4 linked regions of the Homo sapiens genome follow. The protein of the gene in region 1 interacts with the protein of each later gene in a pairwise test. Each region holds a gene or a part of one and is shown in the gene's direction. Other genes may lie near its edges.

The links. Proteins that work in one complex are often made in the same cells at the same time.
Region 2: the proteins of FCHSD2 (region 1) and DAPP1 interact in a two-hybrid assay, tested with the Homo sapiens proteins (one large-scale study listed by BioGRID and IntAct).
Region 3: the proteins of FCHSD2 (region 1) and ANKS1A interact in a two-hybrid assay, tested with the Homo sapiens proteins (one large-scale study listed by BioGRID).
Region 4: the proteins of FCHSD2 (region 1) and ITSN2 interact in a two-hybrid assay, tested with the Homo sapiens proteins (one large-scale study listed by BioGRID).

What each region holds. Positions count from the first base shown.
Region 1 is NC_000011.10:72,841,819-72,846,872, reverse strand, and holds part of FCHSD2 (F-BAR and double SH3 domains protein 2), read left to right. Parts: intron 1-3,132; exon of another isoform or gene 3,133-3,340; coding exon 3,341-3,424; exon of another isoform or gene 3,425-3,544; coding exon 3,545-3,722; exon of another isoform or gene 3,723-4,031; coding exon 4,032-4,252; coding exon of another isoform or gene 4,253-4,256; intron 4,257-5,054. UniProt on the Homo sapiens protein: Adapter protein that plays a role in endocytosis via clathrin-coated pits. Contributes to the internalization of cell surface receptors, such as integrin ITGB1 and transferrin receptor.
Region 2 is NC_000004.12:99,851,327-99,855,602, forward strand, and holds part of DAPP1 (dual adapter for phosphotyrosine and 3-phosphotyrosine and 3-phosphoinositide), read left to right. Parts: intron 1-1,891; coding exon 1,892-2,022; intron 2,023-4,276. UniProt on the Homo sapiens protein: May act as a B-cell-associated adapter that regulates B-cell antigen receptor (BCR)-signaling downstream of PI3K.
Region 3 is NC_000006.12:35,081,255-35,085,530, forward strand, and holds part of ANKS1A (ankyrin repeat and SAM domain-containing protein 1A), read left to right. Parts: intron 1-1,436; coding exon 1,437-1,562; intron 1,563-1,900; coding exon 1,901-1,972; intron 1,973-2,162; coding exon 2,163-2,249; intron 2,250-2,863; coding exon of another isoform or gene 2,864-2,866; coding exon 2,867-3,004; intron 3,005-4,276. UniProt on the Homo sapiens protein: Regulator of different signaling pathways. Regulates EPHA8 receptor tyrosine kinase signaling to control cell migration and neurite retraction.
Region 4 is NC_000002.12:24,311,261-24,315,536, reverse strand, and holds part of ITSN2 (intersectin-2), read left to right. Parts: intron 1-312; coding exon 313-405; intron 406-2,013; coding exon 2,014-2,077; intron 2,078-3,161; coding exon 3,162-3,325; intron 3,326-4,276.

The sequences.
Region 1 (5,054 bases):
CCCTTATGTCCTAATATTAAATTAAAAGGTAGGATACCAAATTGTATGTACCGTAAGAGCTCAATTATGCATATTTTCCAGCTTTTCTACGATGAACATGTATGATATAATCAGGAAAAACATATTGTTTTAAAAGAAATACAGGAAATTTGGAGAGATACTGGTGGAAACGGAGCTCTGGTTGTCACTGGATACTAGGACTTAAGGAGACAGTATGAGAGTATGTGTGTATTTAATAACCATTTACTGCTCACTGTCTTTAGTTGGGGTAAGTGAGAAGAAATGTAGTCCCTAATTATTTCTAGTAGGAAGCTCACAAGGACAAACTCATTAGAGCATCATGGTAGTCAGTGTTATGGGGACGCTCAGAGAGCCTTTTAAGAACAAAATGGGGGCTGGGCACGGTAGCTCACGCCTGTAATCCCAGCACGTTGCGGGGCCAAGGCGGGCGAATCGCGAGGTCAGGAGTTCGAGACCAGCCTGACCAACATGGTGAAACCCCGTCTCTACTAAAAATACAAAAAATTAGCCAGGCATGGTGGTGTGCACCTGTAATCCCAGCTACTTGGGAGGCTGAGGCAGGAGAATTTCTTGAACCTGGGAGGCAGAGGTTGCAGTGAGCCGAGATGGCACCACTGCACTCCAGCCTGGGCAACACTGTGAGACTCCGTCTCAAAAAAAAAAAAAAAAAGAGCAAAAGGAGGAGCAGCTTACTCATCATGAGTAGTCTGGGAAAACATATGCGCTCAGTCTCAAGTCAAAAGTAATCGTAACTACTTATCTATCTATCTATCTATCTATCTATCTATCTATCTATCTATTTATTTGTAATCCCTTCAATAACCCTATGAGGAAGATATTATCAAACACCCCATTCATTCAACAAATAGTGCTTGAGCACCTTCCATGTATCAGTGCTGTGGGCTTTTCTAGGCTCTGGGATATAGCATTGATCAAAACAGACAAAAATCTTTGCCCTCATTGAGCTTATATTCTAGTACGAAAAAAGAAAACTGAGGTTCAAAGGTATCTTACAGTCACTTGCCCATAAAAATATACTGAAGCTGGACTTAAACCCACAGTAATCTAAGTCTGCTCATCAGATAGGAAAGAGGGAACAGAGCCTGATGGACGGAAGAACACCTATAAAAGCACAGAGGCAAGGAAGAACATGGTATGCTCAGAGAATAGAAATAGTGTGCAGGGGCCAAAGCGTCAAGAGGCCCACAGGGACCAAACTCTGCAGGGTCTTGATAGCCATGCAAAGAACTTGACCTTGTTAGGTGGAAGAATTGGTCATCACTGCTTTAGGATGGGATGATCAAGCTAGTGTCTGCTTACATTGGACAACTAGTGCTGCAGTGTTGAAAAACTTGCATGGACCTCCATGGTTTTTGTTTGTTTGTTGTTGTTTTTTTTTTTTTTTTTTTTTTTTGAGACAGGGTCTTGCTCTGTCACCCAGGCTGGAGTGCAGTGGTGTGATCTCGGCTCACTGCAACCTCTGCCTCCCTGCAACCTCTGCCTCCCTGATTCAAGTGATCCTCCCACCTCAGCCTCCCAAGTAGCTGGGATTACAGGCACGTGCCACCACACCCACCAATTTTTTGTATTTTTCATAGAGACAGGGTTTCGCCATGTTGCCCAGGCCGGTCTCAAACTGCTGGCCTCAAGTGATCCACCCACCTTGGCCTCCCAAAGTGCTGGGATTACAGACGTGAGCCACCTCACTCAGCCTCTCCATAGCTTTTTATAAGGGCAGCAGTTTATTTAAAAGTGTACTACCTCCCTGGTTTGCTGTCACATACATTAACGTCTGGTCGTGTTGATACTTTTTAGGTCTTGCCATGAAAAACATTTTTATTACAAAAATGCCTTTTGCTGGCATATTCAAGGCATAGTGTGGTTTCAGAGTAGTGAAGGAATTCCATTGGAAAAGCTATCAAGGGTAAATGAGTGGGGTTTTTTCCTCAATATTATTTTTCTGTCTCAGGGAGCTATGGCAACATCCAGAATCTGGATTTTGATGAAATGTTTTAATGTTCATAAAATGGGAAATTGATCTTGAAAATGACCCCTTTTTTGCCTTATTTTTGTTTGTGTAACTTGGAGTTAATTTTACATTTTGAGATTGTGAGATTTTAAAAACTTTATGGTTTTAGGTGATGGTTTTAACCCATCTTGGGACTTGGGGAAAGCTTTTAAGACTGTTTTCTAGAGAGCCAGAAGCCAGCAGGCCCCTGTCTATTACACATGACAGGCAAGACTGTTAGGAAGCAAAGCCACACGGACTTTCCAGCCCCTCTGTGGAGCCTCAGAGCGTTTACAGATTTGGCAGTCTCAAGGGCAACATGTGGGTGGCTGATGCTGGTGGATTGCTGCTGTCAGGGATAATAAAACCATTATGGTTAGCAGCTTGTACGGTAGCACGCAAATGGATCAGCTCAGTCTCCACACAGTTAAGTTGGAGCATAAGAAATCCAAACCATGACTGATCTCAATCATTTCCTTTCCTACAATTTTTTTCTTTTGGCCACTGCTTTACAGTGATTCCAGATCAATCCTAGGCACTGCACCCACTATCATCAAATTCACGTACATAGTTCTTTGCATTTTCACTGCATGCTTGTCCATGGGAGCCCTCTGGTAGCAGTTCCAATTCAGTGCCTTCTCGTTTGCCTTTGCTTCCCAAATCATCACAGTTCTGTGCTTATCCATCCCACATTGACTCACATCCTCCAGAAAATGGCAGGATTGTCATTTCAAAGAAATGGAGGCATCAAGTTGAATAACTTGATACAGAAGCTGGAGTTGGAACCCAGGTCCTCTACTTCCAGGAAGTGCTCTCTTTTTTTGTTTGTTTTTTTAGAGACAGGGTCTCGCTCTGTTGCCCAGGCTGGAGTGCAGTGGCTCACTCATGGCTCACTGCAGCCTCAACCTCCCAGGCTCAAGCGATCCTCCCACCTCAGCCTCCCAAGTAGTTGGGACTACAGGCATGTTCCACCATGCCTGACTAATTTTATTTATTTATTTACTTATTTATTTATTTATTGGTAGAGATGGGGGTCTCGCTGTGTTGCCCAGGCTTACATGTTCTGTTCATTGAACGTCATTGCCTCTTGAGGATTCAGTTTCTTGAGTTTTTGTTATGGTTTTATTCTGTTTAGTTTTTTAAAGTAAAACTTCACCTCATTATGAAAGTTTTACAGCATTTAAATTTTTATGTTCAACATGTTTCTCAAAATCATTTCAATATTTTGATCCCCAGTTTTTGTCATGATCAGCTCACATCTGCTCCTTATCTAACCTTTTTAATTTTGTCCATGACCATCCTACACTGCAGGCTTCTCAACCAGATGAGTTGACCATTGAGGAACATGAGGTGTTAGAAGTGATTGAAGATGGAGATATGGAAGACTGGGTAAAGGTATATTCCTTTGCTCATATCGCCCTTTCTTGTGACATTTTTAGGAGTTTGTTTTGGTCTTTGTTGTGCCCTGTCTAAATTGTGTGTGTAAACTTGTTTTGTCACATGTCTTTTACCCAGGCTCGAAATAAAGTTGGCCAAGTGGGTTATGTGCCAGAAAAGTACCTACAGTTTCCCACCTCGAACAGCCTCCTGAGCATGCTGCAGTCCCTGGCCGCTTTGGACAGTCGGTCACACACGTCCAGCAATTCCACGGAAGCAGAACTCGTTTCAGGCAGCCTCAACGGAGATGCCAGTGGTAAAGACTGAAACAAGGCACTCTTTATTTGGTCACGTTTGACCTAAACTGTATTGCCCTGGAGTAAGCCTTCAGTAGGATAAAAAGCACAACTTTCCTCCTGTCCTATAATATGCTTTTCTTTATATGGTCACGTTTGTCCTGCACAGTAGAACCCTAAAGTTAATCATTCATCAGTGAGTAAAAAAATTACAACTTTAATCCTATTCTGTATGATGCTCTTTTAGTTGTCATGTGAGCATAGGGGTGGTTGCAAAAGCAACCGGCTGTTAATTATCTTACCAGATTTGTTTTTCTCTTGCTCCCTAGTATGTTTTGTGAAAGCACTTTATGATTATGAGGGCCAGACAGATGATGAGTTATCTTTTCCTGAGGGAGCAATAATCCGTATCTTGAACAAAGAAAACCAAGATGATGATGGCTTCTGGGAAGGGGAATTCAATGGGCGTATTGGAGTTTTCCCATCGGTGCTAGTGGAAGAACTTTCAGCCTCAGAAAATGGTGACACTCCATGGATGAGAGAGATTCAGGTACCTGAGAGGGGAGACAGTTGAATTAAAAGATGTTTAAAGAAAATTGCTCCCAAAGGGTCTGTGGATCCACACAAAAGTGGGCTGCAGTCTCTGCCTTACCCTCACCGGTCCTTGGTTGCCAGTGTCTGCACAACTGCATTTGGGAAACCAGAGACTTGTCAGTCAGTCCCTTGTGGAATGTGGCCATCCTCCCACACCTCCATCTTCCCACATTCTCTCTCTTCCTTGAATTGGTTAACCAAAATGCCAAATTATATGTGACATACCAAAGATCGTTTTGGTGGAGAGAAAGAAACAAACCGAAGAGGGAAGGCGTTGCTCTGTGGTTAATTTACGTAGTAAAACTCTTAGCTGGCTCTCTCTCTCCCTCACTGTCAGAGCCTCCTTGCCTAGTCCAGGTCCTGCCAGTCTATTTCAGAGAATTAATGAGCCTGCCAGAGCCCCTAATCCCCACTCAAGTGACCCTAGACTTAGTTCATCACAGGGAAACAGCCTTTAAAGGAACCTCTAATTCAGTCAGAGTTTAGTTTGTCCCCTCAGGGATCTATCACTGCAGGCCAGACAGGTAGAGGAAGAAGGAACGTGTTTGCCGATCTTGTTTGCGTGGTGATTGTGACCCCTTAGCCTAACATGCACAAAACCTGGGGAAGTCAGAAATTCAGCAAAGTATTTTATCTTCACCCCAAAAAATCCAACTTGTTCCTTTTGTTGTTGTTGTTCTTTGCTAAGTTTACTGAATTGACTAATTTGGTACATTTTCAATAGAACCCTAGAGAGTAGCTTCACTTGATAACTGTTT
Region 2 (4,276 bases), on another chromosome or scaffold:
ATGCCAATGAGAGACAGAAAGAGGAAGGGCCAGAGGCTTTCATTCTTCTCTGAGGTCGAGATCAGACACCCTCTTCTGGCTTTTCTCAACAGCTTTTCATTTTACAGCAGCACCTTATCTGGGCCCAAGTATCAAAAGCCACAGTTCTGTTTTTGCAGTCAGACATTGTATGTATTCAAGTATCATAGACAGGTTTTGTTTTGTGTAGTTTTTTTTTTTTTTTTTTTTTTTTGAGACAGAGTCTCACTCTGTCACTCAGGCTGGAGTGCAGTGGTGCGATCTCGGCTCACCGCAACCCCCGCCTCCCGGGTTCAAGCAATTTCCCTGCCTCAGCCTCCCGAGTAGCTGAGACTACAGGTGCCTGCCACCACGCTCGGCTAATTTATTTTTGTTTTTATTTTGTATTTTAGTAGAGATGGGGTTTCACTATGTTGGCCAGGATGCTCTCGATCTCCTGACCTCATGATCCACCCACCTCAGCCTTCCAAAGTGCTGGGATTACAGATGTGAGCCACTGTGCCCGGCCTGTTTTGTGTAGATTTATCATTAACATTAGGGTGTTTTTTAACCACAGAGGAGACATTTTTCTTTTTCATTTTCTCACTCTTACTCTAATTCAGGTTCTATACTCTCCAGATCTTTCAAATCTTTTCAAAGACGCCCTTCCTGATGACCCTTGTAAAATATCACCCTCTCCCAACCCTACCTTTTCTATTCTCTATCCCTTTACCATGCCCTATTCATTTTTTCCATAACACTTCTCACACATAAAATATTTTTTAAATTTTTTTTCTGTCTCCTCTACCTAGAACATAAGCTCGATAAGAGCATTTAAACTCCTTTGTGTGCTATTGCATTCCCAGTACCTAGACAAGTGCCTGGCAGAGTGCAAAGCTCTGTAAATATTCGTTGAATGAATTGCTGAATTCTTTACATCTCTTCCATGTCTGGTACAATCTTAGGCTTGCTATAGAAAAGACCCTAGTAAAATTAAAAGCAAGAAACCATAGCAAGAAGAAAAAAAATCCCCTTAAGTTGCCTCTTTTTGTAGTTAGTTTCTAGTTTCTGATTGACTGATTGATTGAGGGAAGGATTTCAAGAAGGAAATGTCAGAAACATAGACTCAGAACTGCTCTGAGCCCTTGGAACAAAGTTCCCCAGCCCCCCATGCCTGGACCCCCTGGGCTGAGCCCTTTTTCTGCCTGGAGGCTCCCCTCTCCAGATGGAAGGGGAAGGAGGCAATCACTTGTGAGCACCAGCTTGTTCAGGTCATGTTCACTTAGTAATGCAAAGACTTTGCTTGGTTACTTTCATTAATTGGGTAGTATCAGAGAGTAGGGAGAATGCTCACTTTTTTGAAATCCACTAATTTGTTACACGTTTATTCGGAAACTGATTGATAGGAAATAAGGGCAATGGAATGGATCTTCCTCTACCCTAGTGCTTTTGTTTAGTCTTGTTCTCATGGCTTTCATAAAGCCTTCCTGGAAAACTTCCAGTTACTACTTAAGATCTAAATCAAATGTCACCTCCTTTATGAAAGCTGTCCTGAATCCTTTCATGGAAAGGTTCTTCAAGCAGTCTGGGGATGATTATCATGCTTTGCTCACACGGCTGCCATTGGTCTCATCACCCTGTTCATTTAAACGACCATATCTGTTACCAGTTCTGAGCACCAGGAGGCCAAGGAACATCTCCATCATGCTTTATATCTCAGTGTCCAGCTTAAGTGCCTTATACCTAATTGGTATTTGATAACTGTTGAGATAATGAGCGAGGGAATACATGAAAAAAACAAAAGACTTTCCAATCCAGCCACAGTTATCCAGTTAGCATTTGGACCTTCCTTCTGGGAACACTGTTCGATTATATATTTTTCATCTTCATTCAGGCACTCTGATGGTTCTAAAACATCCCTACCCAAGAAAAGTGGAAGAACCCTCCATTTATGAATCTGTCCGGGTTCACACAGCAATGCAGACAGGAAGAACAGAAGATGACCTTGTGCCCACAGCACCTTCTGTAAGTGACCTTCAACGTGACCACAAGCTCTCTCCCTGTCTAAAATCAATCAAGTTCAATAAAAGTTAATAAGAGTGTATTTGTTCACATAAAAATTCTAGCTTGGAATATAAAACTTGGAAAGGAATGTGAGATTTGAAGCCTATGACTCAGTTCATCTGGTCCTGGGTAGATCATAAAAATTACAATGCAGCCAGACATGGTGGTTCATGCCTGTAATCCCAACATTTTGGGAGGCCAAGGTAAGAGAATTGCTTGAGCCCAGGAGTTGGAGACCAGCCTGGGCAACATAAACATCTCTACAACAAACTTTAAAAAATATTAGCTGGGCATGGTGGCATGCACCTGTAGTCCCAGCTACTCAGGAGGCTAAGGTGGAAGGATTACTTGAGTCAAGGAGGTTGAGGCTGCAGTGAGCTGTGATTGTGCCACTGCACTCCAGTCTGGGTTACAGAGTGAGACCTTGTCTCAAAACGAACAAATGAAAGCAATGCAATAGTAATAGGATTTTAAATACTTCGAAAATGGAACTTAAATCTCTGTCCTTAGTTAACCAAACAACTTCAAAGTAGAATGGAAAAGAGAAGTTTGCATTCACATAGTTTTCTAAACTGTTTTCTCCTACAATTTTCTTATATTAAGAAAATATATTTTTTTAAATATTTCAACTATCTATGGAAGACAAATATTCTCCACCTTTACTATAAAAACTCAGGGTATTATTTTTTCTAGCTTTTTTTCCTTTACTGACTGAAGTTTACAGACAGAAAACACTTGTGCTTCTTTGCAACGTGAGCCATTGTTCAATTTCAGTGCAATTGGAGCACTCATTGTTTGTCCAAGAGTCCATTTATGTTTGTTCTGTGAACTGTGACTCTGCAGAGGTTCCTCTCCAACACCCTTTTCCCTTCATTATTCTGAAGGCCCTTCTATTTGTTGTCTCTTCCTTGTTTGCTGAATACTCCTGGTATAAGAAACCTCTATTTGGGCAGATGATAAAGAAGATAATACCCAAATAAATATCAAGAACTAATTCTGGATAGTAATCATGACACTTGAAAAATAATCACTTGAAGATATTCAGCTACAAATTATATTAAAATAAGTGTAACTTTCTATATCTGCAGTACTTTTCTCTACCCTTGACCAGAGAGATCTTTCTTAAAAAGAAGGCTTGCCACATGACCTCTGCTTTACATCCTTTGGTGATGCCTTTTGTGTTCATGGCCCACCTGGACCCTGCTTGCCTCTCTGTCTTCATCTCATGCTACTCCCACACTCACACTGTGAAACCTGTCTCTCTCAACATTGTGCTCTTTCTCCTCTCCCTACATCTGAAATGCTGCCAACACCATTGCTATCTACTCATCCCTCAAGACTGGTATCACGGATCATTATCTTCCAGGAAGCCTTTCTTCACCCCCACTAGCTTCTTTTACAATGCTCCTCTTCTGTGCTCCAGAGCACCCTCTGTTTGCCTTTATTCTAAAATTACCATGCTGTGGGCTAATTACCTTCACATCTCTCTGCCCTCCCCACCAGCCAGAAACATCTAAGTACATGAATCATTGCTTGTCCTTGCAGCTTTACAGCCTAGCCTGGCTCATGGCACATCTTACATATTCATTGCAGTGCTACATCTCCTCAGAAATAAAAATCCTGAAAATTGACTGAGAAAGTTATTTTGGCTTTGTTAGAAGTGGGGGAGAAGGCATCAAGAACTCAGAACTTGAGAAATTTAGGAGTGCAAGACAATAAATAGTCCAAAGGCAGAAAAGACCAAAGAACAAATCAAGATCTACTCTGCAACCAATTCTTGTTTTCCAGTTGTCCAGTCCCTTCATAATTTCCTCTTTACCCACCCTTACCCTTAATATAGATCACCAGTCACTTCAACATCTCTTTCATTTGCCCTGTTAGTTTAACTTCACATTCTCCTCTGCTACACTTCCCCTAAAGATCTCCACTCAAGGTCAAACAAACCATGTCCTATTAAGCGTGTTCTTTATCGGCAATAAAATGCAGATAATACCTAATTTGTGAGATTGGTGTGAGCAGAAGATATAGTATCCTTATGCAGAAATAAACCTCTTTAAAGCACATTCTGGAAACCTTGTTACTTACCTTCTTTTCTCACTCCAGCTATCAGATGGATTCACCTCTTTTAAAATGGAGTTTTTAAAATAGTGGTGAGTGATTGGTTGACAATGACTTGAACTCACACTATATAATGACAAGCTTATGAAGTTGATTG
Region 3 (4,276 bases), on another chromosome or scaffold:
CAGTTGGGCTGGCACCAGAGTCAGGAGGCACTAGCCTGCTCTGCTCGCCCACACCCAGCCGCCTTGCGTAAGGCCCACCCAGCACCCATGGTGCCGAGCTCGGGCCGCACAACTCACTTTAGCTGTCAGCTGCTGGGGCCACTCCTGTGTCCTGTACTTCCCTCCCTCAGGGGTTCAGATCCCCTGTCCGCTCTTTCTCTGTGGCCTCTTGCGTCCTGCACTGCCTCCCCTGCTGGCCCCAGAGCCCTCTGTGCTCTCCTGGCCTCTGAGCTCCTTCTTGGCCCCTTCCTTCTCTGCTTACCCACGTTGTTCCCCAGAACTGCTTTCCCTGCAGCTTCACCTCGGCAGCATTCTCTTCCTCCTGCTCAGCAAAACCACAGCCAGACCAGATTCTGTTCTTCCTGTTCTCTGCCTGCAGCCCCGTGGGGGGCACCGCTGGAGACGCCTCCTCCGCTCCCGGTGCCCGCTCCAGCCCTGGCGGAGGTGGGCCCGTCTCACACTCCTGGCTCACCTTCTCAGGGCATCATTTCCAGGGGTCCTGGATTTACTCAGGACCTGCCTGTCCTGCCTCCCTCCTTGTACGGACCTTGGCTTTGTCCTTTGTCCTCTTCTTGGCCTGTCAGACACAGGATTAGCAGGTGTCCCTCAGGCCCCTCCGGGTGAACTTCAGCTTCACCCCTGCTTGTTTCTCTGACTCTCACTTCTCACTTCTGGCTCTGGGGACTTCCTTTCCCTTTCTACAAGCACAGCCATGAGTTTTAAAGGATTTTTAAACACATTGTCCAGCAATTCCGGTTGCTGTTGAGAGGCTCTGCGCACTGCTGGGAAGGGAGGGCCTCCGTGTTTCCTGAATCTTTTCCTTCCTCTCCATTCCTTCCACCAGTGCCCTGGACAGGGACCCATGATCTCTCACCTGGACCGCAGTGGCCTCCCCCACCCCCTAGCTGCTGCCAGAAGGATCCATTTGGAATGCATTCCTAGGCACGGGCGGGTGCTTCACTGGCTTCCCCGCTGTGAAGATCCCTCCCAGGCCCTGGGCTGGGTCCCAAGGCGTCCCAGGGTCTCGTGGGCGCTGTTCTCTCCTTTGGTCTTTGTGCAGAACAGCCTGGCAGCCTGTGCCCCCCACACAGACTCTGCCATCTCCTCTCTGGTCATTTCCCATCTCCTTTGAGACTCATCTCGGACACCACAGAGACTGTCCTTCCCAAGCCCTGCTCTCAGGCGGTTTGGGTCCCTGCTGTGCCTCTGCTGTGGCTAGCACCTCCCCTCTCCCGCAGTGTGTTTGAATTGCTGGTCTGCCCCCTGCCATCTCCACTCGACCCTTGAACTTGCTAAGGTCACTGGCATCTTCACCCTTGAGTGTGCTGGAGCCAGGCAGCAAGCCCATGTGCTCCTCTGGAGCAAGGAGCAGGTGTCCAATTGCGTGTGTTTCGCAGGAGGAGCACCGTGAGGCCAAGCTGACCCTGCGGCCCCCGAGCCTGGCAGCCCCCTACGCCCCAGTGCAGAGTTGGCAACACCAGCCAGAGAAACTCATCTTCGAGTCCTGTGGTTATGAAGCCAATGTGAGTTGCTCCCACCCTCCCAGCAGGGCCGGCCTCCCTGCTCCTTCTCGGCCAGGCACCTGCGGCCAAGTCCCAGCAGGGACTCCACAAAGCCAGGCCCAGGGCTTTTGAGCTGTTCTCCACTCTCAGCCACTCTTGACAGCTAAGGCGAAGGGGTGGAGGCCTCTGGATCCTTTAGCTAGGGAGTTGAATGGAGGGTCTCTCCAGCTGGGGCAGGAGAGGGGGTGTTGTTATTGAGAGGGGTAACTACTTGATTGTGGGACAGTCCCAAATTGGTTGGGTCACCCCTGCATGGAAACGCAGGATTTCCTAAGCCTGGCCACTGCTCGCCCCCACAGTATCTGGGCTCCATGCTGATCAAAGATCTGCGAGGGACAGAATCCACGCAAGACGCCTGTGCCAAGATGCGGGTAGGGTGCCTGTGTGGGCTGGAGGGCGCTGTGGGACTGGCCAGCAGAAGGCAGCAATGGGGGCAGTAGCTGCAGTTGCCTGGGCCCTGCTGCACTATGTAAGGATGGGAAGGAAGCTGGGACCTGTGGAAGCCCAGGAGGCTTAGCCCTGAGAAGGGGCACTGACAGGGCCACCCCTTGTTTCCTGTAGAAATCTACGGAGCACATGAAGAAGATCCCCACCATCATCCTGTCCATCACATACAAAGGTGTCAAGTTCATCGATGCCTCCAACAAGGTGTGCTGCTTACAGGGACTCTTGGTGGGAGTGGGACCCACATCCCCGTCAGACCCACAGGGCTCCAGGGCAAGCAACCCGGCTGCCCTGTCTCATCTCTTATCTCCCTAGAGGGTCCCCAGTCCTCTTATTACTTCCCACTTTGCTAAGAGGCGTGTCTCTCATCTGCTGGCCTGGGTGCCTGCTGTCAGCCCCGTCCCCGCCCTAGTGATCACTGCTGTTAGCCTCGCCACCTGGGCTCCACTGGCCGCACACCTGCTCACAGGTGTGATTCCCTCCGTGAGCAAAGGACTTTCTCTGTGTGCCACCGTGTGGGATCCCACCTTCCTGACACCCTTCCCACTTTGCCCCCACCCTGGAAGGTGGGAGGGGCTGGGGAGAGCTTGTGGTTGGGTGTGAACATTTTACTGCCTTAGTTGTTGTGGTAAGGGGTGGAGACCCCAAACCAAAATCGGGGACCCCCACCCCCACCAATAAACAAAATGAGAAGATGAAGGGGGGTTTGCTTGATGCTCTAGGCTGGGACAGAGAACAGTGACAATGGTAACAGGCTGGGGCAGGGGGTGCCAGAGGCATGCCTGAGCCTGAGAATTCCAGAACACGGCTTTCCCCAGCAGAACGTCATTGCAGAGCACGAGATCCGGAACATTTCCTGTGCGGCCCAGGACCCGGAGGACCTCTGTACCTTTGCCTACATCACCAAGGACCTGCAGACCAGCCACCACTATTGCCATGTGTTCAGCACCGTGGATGTGGTGGGTGGGGTCCTGGGGCCGGGTGGGGCAGGCTTGGGTTGCAGCCCTGAGGCGTCCAGCCCCATTGCAGGGCACAGATGCGGCGCTGTCCTGGCCCCTGGCCAGTGCCTGGCAAATGTTTGGTTCATGAATGGAGCCCAGCAGCACTCAGGCCGGTCCCCTTTCACAGTGATGAGACTGACGCGCAGAGGGAACAGGGACTGGCCCAGGGCACTAGGGACAGGAGGTTCCAGCTTTTTTTTTTTTTTTTTAAGAGATGGAGTCTCACTATGTTGCCCAGGCTTGCCTTGCACTCCTGGGTTCAGGCAAGTTACCCACCTCAGCCTCCCACGTAACTGGATAATAGGCGTGAGCCACCGCCCCTGACTTTCCAGCTTTTTGGCGAGTGTTTTCTTAGGTCAGGCAAGGCCTTTGTTTCCCCCGGCTCCCTGCCCTAGGTCTCCAACCTCTGGCTGGGCCGCCTCCCAGAAATGCCCTCTACTTCCCTCTTAGGGGCAGTGGTGCCCTCTTTGGCAGATTTTCTTCCCTCAAATTCCTGCTGAGGCTCGGCTCTGGATGCCACTGGGCCGAGGAGAGTTCATTCTCACACAGCTGCCCACAGGGAGCAGACCAGAACTGACAGCCCACAGGCGGGGGTTCCCTCTAACCTGCAACAAAGCATGAGAGTGGCCCCAGGCTGCTTCCTCACCCCGGGAGGAAGTCAGAGGGGTCCAGGTCTCTGCCGCCCTCAGGGATAGCAGCTGCTTCCAGAATCTCTGTGGCTCCTGGAATACAGGCAGCTCTGGGCATCCCCACACTCCTGGGACCTCATCCACCCCAGTCCTCTGTTTGCTCTGGGCCAGTGAAGGTTAGGAGGAACCAGGCTTTGCTGCTTGCTGGCTGTGTGAGCTTGGAAACATCGCATCTGCCTGCTTCCTCATCTGTCTGGAGGGGATATAATGTGGCCCACCTCAGGGGCCACTGTGAGATGGATGAGGTGGTCCACACAGCACAGTCAGTGGCATTTACCTGTTGCTGACTTTTCCCACATACACTCAGTTCTGCTGTAACGCCACACATACGCTCCTAACAATCACTGTGCTGTGTAAAATCACACAAGGAAAACCACAGGGTTTATGGGGAAATGGAGTTAGGGGCACAGCACTCACAGACTTTGTCGGTGACACATTAAAAATAAAAGCACTAGCACCACTTACATTAAATGGTAAGAAATACCCAAGTACTGCTGCAGGCACGGCACCCTGCCTTGGAAAAGACCTGCCGTAGGCTTAC
Region 4 (4,276 bases), on another chromosome or scaffold:
TACTGTTGTTTTCTAGAGCATGAATTCCTTGAGGGTGGGAATATTTTCTTCATCTTTTTATTGCCAGTATTTAGCTTGATGCCCATTTCCAGTGAGTGTGATATAGCACTTGTTCAATAGACGTTAATTGAGCCAATGAGTGAAAAGCCTTAGGGCTGTGCTATGTATGGTTATGATAGAGCTCTACTCTTTGTGTCACTCAAATATTAAATACTGTCATACAATGAACACTTGTGATTTCTATTTACATTTTAGAATTGTATTTTAAGCATTCTCATGTATACACTATAGTTTCTTCCACTTATGTTTCAGGAGGGCCAAACATGTGGGCTATTACCTCTGAAGAACGTACTAAGCATGACAGGCAGTTTGATAACCTCAAACCTTCAGGAGGTTACATAACAGGTTTGTATTTATAATTAGTTTTATTAGTGAATTATGGTCCTTATGTGATATCTAAGAATTAGTTTTAATTTGACTGCCATCAAATTTGTGTTAATAAACGATAAAATTCATATCAATCAGAATTCTAGAAATTAAAGAAATGCTAACTTTATTTTTCCTGGAACTGTCTTAATTTGTTGTTTTAAATTTGGGATATGGAAGATTTTTCCTGAATCCTAAATGATAGTCAAGAATTTCTGTGTAATTGTCTGGTTTCACATTTTAACATTATATCTAGAAAGTTTTCAGTTTATTTCTTAGATTCATTTCATGGAAAATCTAGACTTTTTTTTTCTGGAATCTGTTTTCCTAATGCTAGCCCTCTGTCTTTGAGGCTACACCAAGCACTGATTGTTGATGCTAGCCCTTGTTTTGCAGAAAGACCACCAGAGCCAAAATGGGATTAATTTAGGTGTGCCTTTGAAATTTTTTTCTATTAATTAAACTTTTTTCTGTGCCAAAGTAGCTTAGTGCTTTACATACAATAATAGTAACTATGAGAACAATGATATTTATTGAATTTTTACTATATACCAGATGCTATGCTAAGTGCATTATTTTATTTAACCTTTACAACAACCCTGTAAAGTAGGCACTGTTGTTGTCTATATTTACAAATAGTGAAACTGAGACTAAGAGACGTTATGTAACTGCCTAAGGTTACAAAGATGGTTAGTGTTAATCTGGGCTTTGAAACCATTTGGGCTGATTTTGGAATCCATCTACTTAACCATGTTATTTGTACTGCTATGATAGTAATTACCTTACCTGGTATCAGGATTTGATTACCCTGCTTACAGGTTAATAACTTTGTCCATTACGGGTGGAAGACCCAAGATTCCTGAGTCAGAGACAAAGAACCTTATGACTAACAGCATAACTAGCAAAATGAGCATTGGCATCTATCTTTCTGTTTCCTTTAGTGTTCCCTAAGTCCCACAGAGACAATGCAGAGAGCCCAGGAGAATAGTACACATGCTATGATTGTGTTACAGGAGAGGAACACTGAATTTGGGGAACCCACCCTTTTGTAGCAAGCAGTAAAGCAAGTTTGTCCCTTGTCTCAGTGGGAAACGTTACCGGATTCGTTAAGATTGCTCATTACAAACCCAATTCTGAGAAGTGACCCAGGCAGAGAGCAATTAGGGTCTTACATTATTGGTATACAGAGCAAGACACATAGGAGTGTGAAGAAACTCATGGAGGACTCTCTCTCCTAACACCTGGTACTTTTTATATTGAAACTCTTTTAGGGAATAGTGTTTTTAAATATAAATTTTACTAAGTGGAAGTATTTTTAAGGAAGACCCCAATTGTGGAAAAACTGAGATGAATCATCTTTCATCACTGATTAATATACAATAGAAGTGCAGATGTGACTTTTGTTTTAAAATATCTGTCTTATTAAAGTTATGTAAATAATTTTTATGTGTTTCTATTTCACTTATTCTTTAATGATTGGTATTAAAATTATAATAAATCATTAACATATACCCATTATTATTCAGAAGCATTGGAATAATTTCATTTACTAATGTGCTGCTTGGGTTTTGTTTTTATTACCTCCAGGTGATCAAGCACGTAATTTTTTCCTACAATCAGGTCTGCCGGCCCCTGTTTTAGCTGAAATATGGTAAAGTGTTTTGTAGATGAACCTAATTTTCTGATAGTATTTTGTTTTTTTGTAATATAGTGTTAACATAAAATTGTTTTTAGTTGCATTCTATTGGTTATTAAGAATATTTCTGCCAGCACTTTGGGAGTCTGAGGTAGGAGGATTGCTTGAGGCCAGGCTGGGCAACATAGTGAGAACCCTGTCTCTACAGAAAATTAAAAAAAAAATTAGCTGGGTGTGGTGGCCACACCTCTAGTCCCAGCTACTCAGGGAGGCCAAGATGGAAGGATTGCTTGAGCCCAGGAATTCAGTGCTGCAGTGAACTATGATTGTGTCACTGCACCCTAGCCTGGATGACAGAATGAGACTCTCTTTAGAAAAAAAAAAAAAAAAAAGGTATTTCTTCAGTTTTTTGGAAAATAAATTTTATTGAGCAAATTATTGAAAATAATTCAGGTTTAGTTCTCTAGGACAAATTTCTAATTTCATTAGAATTTTCTAAGGAAAGATATATACATTATCATTGAGAAAAATTTCCTTATAATTTGGCAGAATCTCAAAATCCTCTTTCTGTTATTTTGTAGTTTCATTTATTTCATAATCTATAAACCCCAAATTAGTCCTCGCTTCCCCTGCTCCTTCTTTAAAGAAACTATTCTCTATAATATCTGTTTTTTTAAAAACGTTTACAATAAGTAACAACCCCTGTCCCATCTTTCCACTTGGAATATTCTCATGCCTGGTAGAGTACGAGGCACATAGCAAGTATTCAGTAAATATTTGGACAGATGAATAAATTAAATTTAGAAGTATTATAATCTTGAATTTTTTTCTACCTAAACTGGTGGAATTCAGCCCAAAGGTCTCTAGATTCTGTTTTGACAGGCAGTGTTTTATTAGTTATTATCTCTGGTCAGTATTTCTTAAAGTGTAGGTTTTATCTTTTTGTTATTATATATTTTACATGTTAGATATTTTAAATTTAGTGATGATGTACACGTGAATGCCATATCATCATTTTTACTTTGTCAATCCCCAAAATAACGTTAGTTTTCCCACCACCACACCACATAGCAATCTACCTACCTCATGCTCCTTTTAGGGCTTTATCAGACCTAAACAAGGATGGGAAGATGGATCAGCAAGAGTTCTCCATAGCTATGAAACTCATCAAACTGAAGCTTCAAGGCCAACAGTTGCCTGTGGTTCTCCCTCCTATTATGAAGCAACCCCCTATGTTTTCTCCATTAATTTCTGCTCGTTTTGGTAAGTATGTATTAATTTAAATACCTGTATTTGCTACTTAAACTTTATCCCTAGGCATATTTGAGTATTAGAAAAGGATTTGTTAGCACAAAATGACAGTCCCCAGATTCCAAGTTAATTTTCATGTTAGAGATAATAAATATTAAATTCACTGTCACAGGTAGGGGATCCATGTGTTCTGGTTTTCTAGGGACAGTTCTGATTTATGCCTTTTGTCCTGGCATCTGGTCCAGTTAGTGTCTCCTTTTACAACTCCTAGTTGCGTGATGAATTATATGGTCTCCCTAGGTATAGCCAATCCCAAATACTATTCTTAGTTTCCTCTCTCTCTATATATATGTGAGTAATACAGAAAAAATTTTGAGCAGTTTTAAACTCACTTGAAATGGTTCGATTTGGGAGATAATTTAAAATTTTATGTAAGTTGAATTTTTTTAAAGGTTAATTAGCCAGCTAAATTTAGGGCCAAAAGTTGCAGACTTTGGGCTAATAAGTTCACGTATTCATCAGCGATAACCGGTTGGTATGTTTTCTGTTAATTTTGATCAGGCAATTTCTTATAATTATATGTGAGAAGCACTCATTTTGAATGGAACATTCAATTAGGTATGTCTATGTATCTGAAACATGTTCCTTCACTACAGATCTTAGAATATAGAATTCTAGAGCTGGTTATAGGGGTGTGTGCCTGTAGTTCTGGCTGCTTGGGAGGCTATGGGTAGGATTGCTTGAGTCCAGGAGTTTGAGGTTGTACTGTGCTATGATCGCACCTGTGAATAGCCACTTCATTCTAGTCGGGGCAACATAGTGAGACCCCCATCTCAAACAAACAACAGACTCCACAAAATTATTTCACTATTTTAGTGAATTCTAAAGATAAATACTAAATCATTGTGTGACCATATTTATAAGTATTCTGCAGTTAATAAATGAATAAAAGTCATCACTTTG